3 linked regions of the Homo sapiens genome follow. The protein of the gene in region 2 interacts with the protein of the main gene of each other region in a pairwise test. Each region holds a gene or a part of one and is shown on either strand. Other genes may lie near its edges. The genes, in order: DEF6, BEGAIN and KIAA0408.

The links.
Region 1: the proteins of BEGAIN (region 2) and DEF6 interact in a two-hybrid assay, tested with the Homo sapiens proteins (one large-scale study listed by BioGRID and IntAct).
Region 3: the proteins of BEGAIN (region 2) and KIAA0408 interact in a two-hybrid assay, tested with the Homo sapiens proteins (one large-scale study listed by BioGRID and IntAct).

What each region holds. Positions count from the first base shown.
Region 1 is NC_000006.12:35,307,711-35,311,363, reverse strand, and holds part of DEF6 (differentially expressed in FDCP 6 homolog), read right to left. Parts: intron 1,695-3,653; coding exon 1,554-1,694; intron 906-1,553; coding exon 720-905; intron 1-719.
Region 2 is NC_000014.9:100,580,818-100,584,470, reverse strand, and holds part of BEGAIN (brain-enriched guanylate kinase-associated protein), read left to right. Parts: intron 1-3,653. UniProt on the Homo sapiens protein: May sustain the structure of the postsynaptic density (PSD).
Region 3 is NC_000006.12:127,449,338-127,452,990, forward strand, and holds part of KIAA0408 (uncharacterized protein KIAA0408), read right to left. Parts: intron 1,981-3,653; exon of another isoform or gene 1,945-1,980; intron 1,016-1,944; coding exon 653-1,015; intron 565-652; coding exon 485-564; intron 1-484.

The sequences.
Region 1 (3,653 bases), on a different chromosome or scaffold from region 2:
GTACAGAAGCCCCCTCTCCTGTAAACCCCACTCTAAAGACCTAAAGTCACCCTGGCATCTCCACAGCCACCAAGAGGACTAAAGGGTCACAAGGCCAAATGGGCAGGGGAGGGAAGTGAGGATAAGAGGGAGGGTACAGGTGGATGGGAAAATGCCTTCCCTGGCTTCACCCAGGAGTAAGGAGATAGGGACCAGATTCCCAGCCTTTTCTCCCAGGATGCCCTATCCCTGGGTCTCTTAGCTGAGTTTGTCCTGGCTTTCCAGAAGAAAGGCAGAAAGGGAAAATCTGGAACCAGAGTAACCTCCTGTCTCAGAAAGGTCTCCCCTTGCCTTGTAAAGCATCCTTCCTGTCCTGGAAGAAGTGGCAAAAGGTAAAGGAAAAAAAAGCACCCTTCCTAGATTGCCAGTAATGCTCAGTAATGTATCTGGCATTTAGACCTCTGTGTAAACAGAATTTGCAGATCATTTTCCTACAGTGAGGACCAGCAGAACCCTCATGAAAGTGTAATTTCAGTTTTCCTGGAAGAAGGCAAAATTACTCTGACACAGGCAGTTCTAGGCATCTGGAGACAGCTGGGTGAGGACAGATACCAGCATGGGAAGATGGTAAAGAAAGAAAGGGGATATGGGAAGGCACCAAAGGTGGTTTGGTCTCATTCATGGTTTTGCTTAGGTCTGGTCCCAAGTGATTCAGTCCCTGGGGCTGCCATCACCCTCACCTCATCAGGAACCATGATCAGAGGGTACTTGTCCTCAGACAGGAAGTTGAAGAGGCACCAGAGGCGGAAGGCATCCTGATTGGAGAGCATACTGTTCCCGTTGCTATCTGCCCGATAGTTCTTCTTGGCCGTCAGCGTCCAGCACAGCTCATCAAAGTGCTCTTTAACAAAAGCCCCCTCCTCCACCTGCCACCAGGGCTGCAAATCAGCTGACTGCATATCTCAGCTCTACCACGACACTAGGCTCCAGCTGGGTTTCTTGGGTTCATCTATGCCCCTGCTCCCCACCTGGCCAAGTCCAGGGCCCTAACTCAAGGGATCCCTGAGCTGATTACCAGGTAACTAGCTGGTTCCAACCACTCCACCCTCCACAACACACCCACACCCACCCAGGCCCCCTGACAACAGATTAACTCTAGTCTTTCAGCCCAGAGGACAAAGAAGGAGAAACCCAGCAGGAAGCTAAGAGCCAAGAACCTGGAAACACAGTGACAGATTGGAGGAGTTGGAGGGGGAGTTCAGGGGGACAGTCTGGGAAGGGTGGAGAACCCTGGAAGCTGGAGGAGGGCCGGGCAGGGATTCGGTGGAAGGTTATGGGTAGGGTGGGGCCCACCTCATTAGAGATGAGGGACATTGAAGGTGAATTGAGGGGGACAGGAAGGGGGCAGGTGGCTGGGATGTGAGGGACGTGATGGGACAGCAGTCACGGACAGAGCAGGCAGAAGTAGGAGTTTATGGCAGGGGCGAAGAGTTGGAGTGGCAAGGTATTAGGCTGCTGGCCAGGCTGGAAAAGTGGGGAGAGGTTACAGATGCTCCCTACAAGCTGGGCCCCACCTTGTCCAGGATGTACTTGTTGAGGTAGGGCATGTATCCCTGGCTGGACACAGGGCCGTCATCATCATCTCGGAAGTGTTCCTCCAGGGCCACGGGGTCATGGGGGATGTGCAGGACCGTGTACAGGTTGTGGGACAGCACCTGGGATAGAGTAGAGTGGCAGTGTGTCTTTCTGCACCCCAACCAAAACTGGGCCAGAGGACTGCTCCCCACCTCTCTGCTTGTCCTCACCCCATCCTGGCTGAGTTCTCTACACACACTGTTCAGTTCAGTAATAACTAAAACTTATATACTATGTGCCAAGCACTGAGCTAAAGTACTTTACATATCATTTGCTTAACCACCATAACAACTACTCATATACCCATTTTACAAATGAAAACTCCTGCAGCCCTGAGATATTTCTCACCCAAGGTCACAGCTGGCAGAACTGGAATTCAAACCCATGCAGTTATACTCTTAGCCACTTCATTAGGTATTGGTGTCCTCTTTCTACAGACAGGGAGACTGAGGCTCAAGGGATTCAGTAACTTGCCAAAAGACCCACACTGAACAAGAGCTTGGAGTTCAAATCCATCTCCATCAGATTCCAAAGCCCAAGTGCTTCCCACAATGCTAGACAGTTTGCAGGGTTTGCAGGGACTTAGTCTGCCACCCCAGGGCAGAAGCTGCCAATTTATCATGGTTTCCATCAAAGACTCAGTGTCCTGGCTGCAGTGTGCCTATCACCTAAGCGTGTCTGCTCTGGGAGAGGAGAGGGCTCAAAGAAGGGTCATGAAAAATGGTCCATGACATGGAGAGGGCAAGGCTTAGAAGGGATAGTGGTCATAATGGTGTGCAGGGGAAATGTGGGTTTGTTGAACAAATCCATGATATTAGAATAAAGGGGTTGAAATCTGAAATCTGGTGAAAATAAAATCTCCTTGGGGTAATTCTATTATAGCATTTGTCACAAGCAGTGTAAATGATTAAAAAGTCACTAGTTACTATTGCACACTTACCATATGCCGGTCACTGTAGGAGGTGGTTTATTTAATTAAAACTGTTTTTTATTTTATTTTATTTTATTTTATTATTTTATTTATTTTATTTTATTTTATTTTATTTTATTTTATTTTATTTTATTTTATTTTATTTTGAGACGGAGTCTTACTCTGTCACCCAGGTTGGAGTGCAGTGGCATGATCTCAGCTCACTACAACCTCCACCTCCTGGGTTCAAGTGATTCCCCTGCCTCAGCATCCTAAGTAGCTGGGATTACAGGCACCCACCATCACATTCAGCTAATTTTTGTATTTTTAGTAGAGACAGGGTTTCACCATGTTGGCCAGGCTGGCCTCGAACTCCTGTCCTCAGGCGATCCGCCCACCTCGGCCTCCCAAAGTGCTGGGATTACAGGCCTGAGGCACCATGCCCGGCCAAAACTTTTTTTTTTTTTTTCGGTAGAGACAGAGGTCTGCATATGTTGCCCAGGCTGGCCTTGAACTGCTGGCCTCAAGTGATCCTCACATCTGGACCTTCCAAAGTGCTGGGATTTCAGGCATGAGCCACTACACCCAGTCAAAGCGCTTTTTATACCCCATTTCTAGTCTTCACAATCACCTATATACGCAAATATTATTAAGCCTGTTTTTCAGGTGAAGACACAGAGGTTTGGAAATTTTAAGAGTAAATGGCAGAGCTGAGGTTGAAACTAAATGTGCCTGGTTCACAGGTTGCCTTCCTACTAGAATACTGATGTCAAGTCTCCCTCCTCCGTTGGATTGTGAACTCTGGAGACAAGGTCTCTGTTCATCTTTATGTCCCTCAGCATCTATGTCCTCTTTTGTACATCAAGTGCAATCAATACATGCTATATTGAAGGGCTTCTTCCACCACCAGCAGTTCACCTTGGAATCAGTTCCTAGGAGGCAGGAGCTAGCACTGTCTCGGAGATGGTGTGTGTGCCAAGCCTTCATTTTATTCTCTTTTCAGAGAGGAGGGGGAGAAAGTATTGAGACTTTGCCTCAGTGTCCTCCTGGGGCTCAGTTTTCCTTGGCAAACTGGGAAGTGGGAGATCCCAGGAAGGGAGTATTTCCTTTTTTTCCCTCATTTCCCTCT
Region 2 (3,653 bases):
TCCACGAGTCCACAGTTTGCTGGGAGACATGGACCTTGGCCAGTACGGCAGGAGTCAGGAGCTGCTGGGGCTCTTCTCTCCCCTCTAGCCAGGAAGGGAACTCAAAAGTGGCCCTTGCCTCAGCAGGCCTTGAGTCTGGAGGACAGTACAGCAGCCTCTGTGGTCTGCCTGGGGTGGGGATCAGCCAGGGCCCAGCTCTGAGCCAAGCAGGGGAATTGCAGTCATTGGTTCAATCAGCAAGCCCTGAGCCCAAGTCAGGGATGGAGATGGGTCAGGCCTGGGCTTTGCCTGGGGAAGCCAGACATGGAAGCCTGGTCATCCCACAGTGGGTGCATGCTGGGATTAAGAGGTGCATGAGGTGGAGAAGCAACGCAGGCATGCTGAAGGGGATGCATGGGTGGATGATACTGTATGGAAGGGAAGCACTAGCAGGATAGAGCAGCGGATGGATGGGTAGAAACCTAGAGGGATAGGCTGGGCGCAGCGGCTCACGCCTGTAATCCCAGCACTTTGGGAGGCCAAGGTGAGTGGACCACCTGAGGTCAGGAGTTCAAGACCAGCCTGACCAATATGGTGAAACCCCGTCTCTATAAAAATACAAAAAAAATTAGGTGGGTGTGGTGGTGTGCACCTGTAGTTCCAGCCATTTGGGAGGCTGAGACAGGAGAATTGCTTGAACCCAGGAGGCAGAGGTGAGGTTGCAGTGAGCCGAGATCGTGCCACTACACTCCAGCCCCTGGGCAACAGAGTGAGACTCCATCAAAAAAAAAAAAAAAAAGGAAGAAAAACGAAAGAGAGAGAGAGAAAGAAAGAAAAAAAGAAAAGAAAGAAAGAAAGAGAGAAAGAGGGATAGATGGACGGGAGGAGAGGTTGATGGATGTAAGTAGCAAGATAGGGATGGGTGGGTGGACAGATGGAAAAGTTGATATGGATACAGGACTGGATTGATAGAACAAAATATCAATGGATGATACATGGGTGGAGGGAGGGAGACTTCTGATACACAAGGCAAGATTGGTAGATGAATGGATGGAAGGATCTTTGGATGGATGGATGAAGGAATGGATACATAAATGGATACAGGTAGTGCCTGGATGTTGGGATGGGTGGATGAATACTTGAATACATGTCCATGAATGATGGACAGAGGAATGAATGGACACTGGAAGAGTGAGTGCATGGATAGGTGATGAGTGTATATTGACGGATGTGTGGATAGAGGCCTGAGAAGGCAGCTCAGTGCACAAATGGATACAAAGCAATGGATGCATGGATACGAGACACAAGTAACAGAGGAATGGACAGACATGGAGGGATGGGCAGGCGGACAGATGGAGACGGGAGTGAGAGGACCAGTGAACAGATGAGTGCCCATCAGCGGGTGAGGGACACAGAGACAGAAGGATGTGTTGGTGCGTGGATGGCACCTGTAAATGGGTGAGCGGTCACAGGGGTGGATGGTGAAGGACGGTTGGTTGAATGGGTGAAGCTTCAGGTCACTCATGCCTTGATTTCCCAGATGCCAGTGTTTTGCTCACAGACCCCCATGTCCCTCTGCTTCAGAGACATATACTACGCAGGCGCAGGGTCAGGAGGGGGCTGATCAGACAGGGAGACTTAACCCCACCTTGACTTTGGTGGGAGAAAAGCCAACCCAAACTAACAGCTATTTGGCCTTTCCAGGCCCGCTTTGCCCTGGAAGACCCACTCAGGAAATAAGGAAGAAGCAGTGAGACCTCTTCGAAAGGTCAGCGGCCAGCCGGGGTTCCTACAGGGGCGTCCTTGCCCAGGGATCTCCCTGGAAGACCTGGACAGCTGTGTACATGTCCTATCTGAGGAAGAGAACTGGGGCACCTGTGTTGGGTGCTGGGGACTGGGAGACATCAAGACCATGGCTGCCCTTGGAGATTCTGAGGCCAGCGTGGAAAATCCAGGGACAGCGGGGCAGGTGATTAGGAGCACAAGTGTGCGGATTCCCAGAGCCTCAGTGTCCTCAACTGCAAAAGGGGAATAATAATAGACACTTCTGACTGGGCGCGGTGGCTCACGCCTGTAATCCCAGCACTTTGGGAGGCCGAGGTGGGCCGATCACGAGGTCAGGAGATCAAGACCATCCCGGCCAACATGGAGAAACCCCATCTCTACTAAAAATACAAAAATTAGCTGGGCATGGTGGTGCGTGCCTGTAATCCCAGCTACTTGGGAGGCTGAGGCAGGAGAATCGCTTAAACCGGGGAGTCAGAGGTTGCAGTGAGCCGAGATCGCGCCACTGCACTCTAGCCTGGCAGCAGAGCGAGACCTGTCTCAAAAACAAAAGAGAAAAAAGAAAGAAAGGAAAAAAAATAAACTTCTGTGCTGGGACGAGGGGAAGGTTGGTGAAGGTGACCACACCTCTGCTGGCCTATGCTGCGGCCCCTGGCGCATGCCCGCACCATGGGGGTTTACCCGAGACCCCTCAGAGCCCAGTTTCCTCCTCCGTGAAGCGGGGTAGCTGCTCCTAGCTTTCAGGCCTGCTGTAAGAATGAAGCGAGGTGACGTTTGGCACTGTCAGCAGAAGCCCGGCATGCCTGCCCACTCGGCAGGGTCCTCCCAACATCCTGTGGCCTGGTCTTCCTGCTCCAATCCCAGCAGACAGTGGGCAGCCTCATGCCCCTTCTGTCCGAGCTGGCAGGGGCCAGCTTTCCAACCACAGGGGCAGTGTGTGCCAGGCAGCAGGAGAGGGGCTTGGGCATCTGGAGAGGAAACGGGTGTGAGTGCCTGACCTTTGGGGTTCTGTCCTGGGCCTGACATGCCCAAGCCATGTGACCTCCGACGGGTCACTGCACCTTTCTGAGACCCTGCTTCTTTTAGCAGAAAATAGAGCCTTTGGCTGTCCTGATGCACAGAGGCGGGTGGGGATTTGGGGTGATGACGCATGCACAGCACGGAGCTTGGCACGCAGGATGGGCTTGGGAAGCAGGACTGAATCAGATGAGTCAAGAGGCAGGGGCTGCGGTGCCAGGAGCCGGAAGCCCCTCCAGGAGAGGTTGTCCAGGCTGCTGGTAGGTGAGCAGGTCCAGGCCGTGAGCCCACGGTAGCCGGCAGCATCCTTAGAGCCTCAGGCCCAGGCGCCTGAGAGCCAGCAGGTTGTTATGACAACGGAAACTTGCCTGATGCAGCCTGAAACTCTGGAAGCAGCTCAGAGGACTGGTTGGCCAGAGCCCCCAGAACACTCCTGCAACCATGCGTGCTAGTGAAACGGCCACATCAGAGCCCCAGTGCTAATGAGTCCTGAAGTCCCTTGCTCATGCCACTTCCCAGCACTGCCATGGGCTGAGTACTGCCCCATGCCCACCTGACAGATGAGGAGGGGATGTGGCTTGCCCGCAGGCCTGTTGGAGTGTTGGAGAAGGGATTTGAACTTGGATCTGCCAGCCTCCAAGTCTCTTTCCCACTGGTAATAGGGCAGGGGCTGAACGGCTGCTGCTGGGGAAGGGCTGTCCGGGTGTAGAGGGGCGACTGTCGGGGACCATAGGGTGGGAGGAGGACACTGTGGCCTCCCGAGAGCCTGAGATCCCTCCCCTATATTCTCATCCTGTTTCCAGTCACAGTAGGCCCACACCAGGCTGGGGATGTTTGTGAACTGACAGCCTGAACCTGCTATGCCATTCATT
Region 3 (3,653 bases), on a different chromosome or scaffold from region 2:
TGAACAGAGAAATATACAATTACAGTTTCTGGCCTGGCGTGGTGGCTCACGCCTGTAATCCCAGCACTTTGGGAGGCTGAGGCAGGGGGATTATTTGAGGTCAGGAGTTCGAGACCATGCTGGCCAACATGGTGAAATCCCGTCTCTACTAAAAATACAAAAAAACTAGCTGGGCGTGGTGGTGTGTGCCTGTAGTCCCAGCTACTTGGGAGACTGAGGTAGGAGAATCGCTTGAACCTGGGAGGCAGAGGCTGCAGTGAGCCAAGATCATGCCACTGCTTTCCAGCCTTGGAGACAGAGCAAGATAACATCTCAAAAACAAACGAGCAAACAAAAAATTAAAGTTTCTATCTCCCACCCTAGATAGTACATTTTAATAACTCATTAGTTCTTACATGTAAGGAGGAGGCAGTTTGGAGTCATTAACTAAAAACAATATTATTTTTTATTTACCCATCTAAAATAATCAGATGTACCAGCCTACCTTCTATGGTTAGACCGCTTTCGAATTTCCTCTTGAAAGCTGCATAATTCTTCACTCACCTTCGCAAGTTCTTCAAGAGCCTTTACACATATAAGCAACAGCCCGTTAGCACTTTGAAATGTAAATATTTCTTTAGAAACAGTTCTAGGCCAATCACATCTTACTTACTGTACTGAGGGCGCCAGAACAGCTCTTGCTGTCTTCCTCAGAAGTCCTCAGGTCAGGCCAGGCCTCACATTCCTTTTGGTTGTCTGTAGCCAAAGGATCCAAAAACCCTACTTTTGATTTTTTTGTTGCTTTTTGTTCCTTACACATTTGATTTCCTCCACTGACTAAGCTCTGCTCTCTTTTATTTTCTTTTCTCAGACCATCTTTGTGATTCGTCCTTATAAATTCACTTTGTCCTAAATCGGGGTAATTTGGGGAAGATTCTATCACTTTCTCTGGAATGGTCTTCTCATGGTAAAGATCAATGATCTTAGCACTTTCATTGATATTGATTTTCCTCCAAAGCTTTACTTCCCGGCAAAGCTGTAAGAAAAACAAAACAAAATTAAAACTTCTTTTCCCCTAATTCACTTTGCTAATATTCTTGATACTAAGCAAACCGCTTTGAGTTCTCTTTGCCATATTAAAATATACTTCCTGGGTATTAATGCTTCGGCCTCCAAATAGTGCCTCTAAAATATGGATTAGCTGGAACAAGTTTGATGAAACATAAAGGCTACTTTTAGTAGGGCAACACATGGATGCTAATTCTTTTGACTAGCAATCAATCATTCAAAAATAAAATAAATCTGTATCTGTATATAAATACAGAAACACTGTCACAAAATTAGAATGACCTGAATCAATTACTGGCCATATTATATAATTGCTTTCAGAGAGATGCAAGAATTTAACATTAAAGTCATAGTTTTCAAATGTCTGGTCCTACTTGTACACTAACATTTAACTGTCTAAATGCTTGACAATCTCAGATAGTAAGTCAACTTATTCTTGTTCCCTAAACAGTCACTTGTCAGTCAAAAGATGTTTCCTTTGGTTGGTCAATTACATTGTGAGGGCTAGATATTACTGAGATTTTTAAAAAATCTCAAAGTGATACACATTTTTAAAATATTTCTCATCCAGATTAAAACAAATATGACAATACCCTACGTGATATAATAGAACTGCAAGGCTTTGATCATCTATTAGTCTGTATTAAGGTAGAATCCAGATTACTTCTTTATGAGATCTTAGTTGAACCTGCACACACTCATTCAGTTCACTTCTGAATAGAGGAAAGAAATGGCTTTCTCTTTAGGCTTGGGTCATGTAAAAGCTTGTCAAACTTCAAAAGAGACTGTCAGATGACTATCAAAGCAAATGACTCTATGTTTAACAGCCGCAATCAATATCTACACTACATGTATTATTCAAGTAATATAATAGATTTATTGCTGCTTAATACATACCGATAACTCAGTTGAGAGAAGCACTAGAGTTGATGCCTGAAAAATATACAGTGTATTTATTTTTCTAATGCTTACAAATGTATTAGTATTTATTGTATGAAGTCAGGATAGCATCAAACTGCAGCCATGAATTGATTGTTTGGTCCCTGCCAAATTATTTGTACTGAACTTCTGCGGGCATTATGGTTTGAGCTGACCTTGAGGGATATAAGAAGGAACCCTAAAAAGTGACATGTTAAATCTAAGGATGCTCTTGGTGACACTGTCCTGTTTTTGCGAAGTCATGAGTGAAAACAAAATTGCTTTAGTTGCAAAACCGGGAAAAATGTGCTATTCCTGGGAAATAAGTTTGCCTTATCATTTGAATTTGAAGGTATATGCACCTGATAATTTTTGTTAGTTACTAGAAAGACTCACTGGTACATTTCATATATGATCCTTCCTCCTGTCTTCAGCTCATCTTTCCATTTTTGTTTTTGCATATTTTATATCATACCTAATTTTATGCCATCTTAAATTTTCTTGATTTAGGTGAGGTATGAATCAACAAATAACAATGTTATTGATGGAAAACTATTTTGTACAAAGGTACTATGTTACTTGGTACTCAGCCCTTGTCAATGGTTATCTGATTATTCTACCAAAGGATACAGGCAGGAGACTACAGTGTGGAAAAAAACAAAACAAAACCCCAGACGTCTATAAGTTCTATCCAGAATTTCTATCTGGATTATTTCAAATTTCAAATGATCCAAGTATGAACATCTTGGTTTTGCCATAGCAAATGCAATGACTGTGGATAGTGGCTGAACAGGGAACTACGAGCATCTTAATAGCCAACACTGCATCCTCTCATTAGATATTATCACTTAAAGTCACTGAAGATATATGTGCATACCTGGGAATCTACAGTTCTCTAGTACATGGCTTAATAATTTACATCTGATTTAACATACAGAACTTTGTGATAAATGTTAAACAAATACAATCTTTTATGCTTGTGGCATGAGATTATTTTTCCAAGTGTTGATTTCTTAATTTTAGTTTAGTTATGGAGCTGTATAGCACAGGCAGCAAAACATAAACAGCAGTACAGCTACTCTCCAAGATAAAAAAATATGACAGCCCGTTTGTCTCTCTGATACAGAAAGGGATGTTATCTCTATGAGGTATAATTTGATGTTTAAAGCATATTTCATGCCTGCTAATTGATAAAGCTAATATTTACCATAGATGAACTCTATAGAATTGTCAGAATAATTATTGGACAGTAATAAATTTAATCAGACAGCAGCTTCTTTTAACTACATGGCTTTAAAAAATTGGCTAGACTAATCCTGCATCCCTTAGTTATTTTGCTTGGATGCTAGAATTGTCTGAGACTGTTATGAACTGAACTTCCCAAACATTTGGAAGGCAATGACCTAGGACTACAGGTCAGTTTCTGATTGCGCTGGAGTTTTGGATTCTGATTTGACCAGGGAATCTCTTTGTTGATCCAATCCGAGTATGGGTAGAGGGGTTAAAGGAGCAAGCAGGACACATTTTCTAAACTATAGAGGGACAAGAAGTATATATTCTCCTTTAATCCCTAATCATACACCACATGCCTGCCTTCTCAGCTCTATTTTAGAGGAAGGGCTTAATAGTTACTTTTCTTCAGCTTTCTTCCTACTATGCCAATTCATATTTTATTCACAGTCAATTAC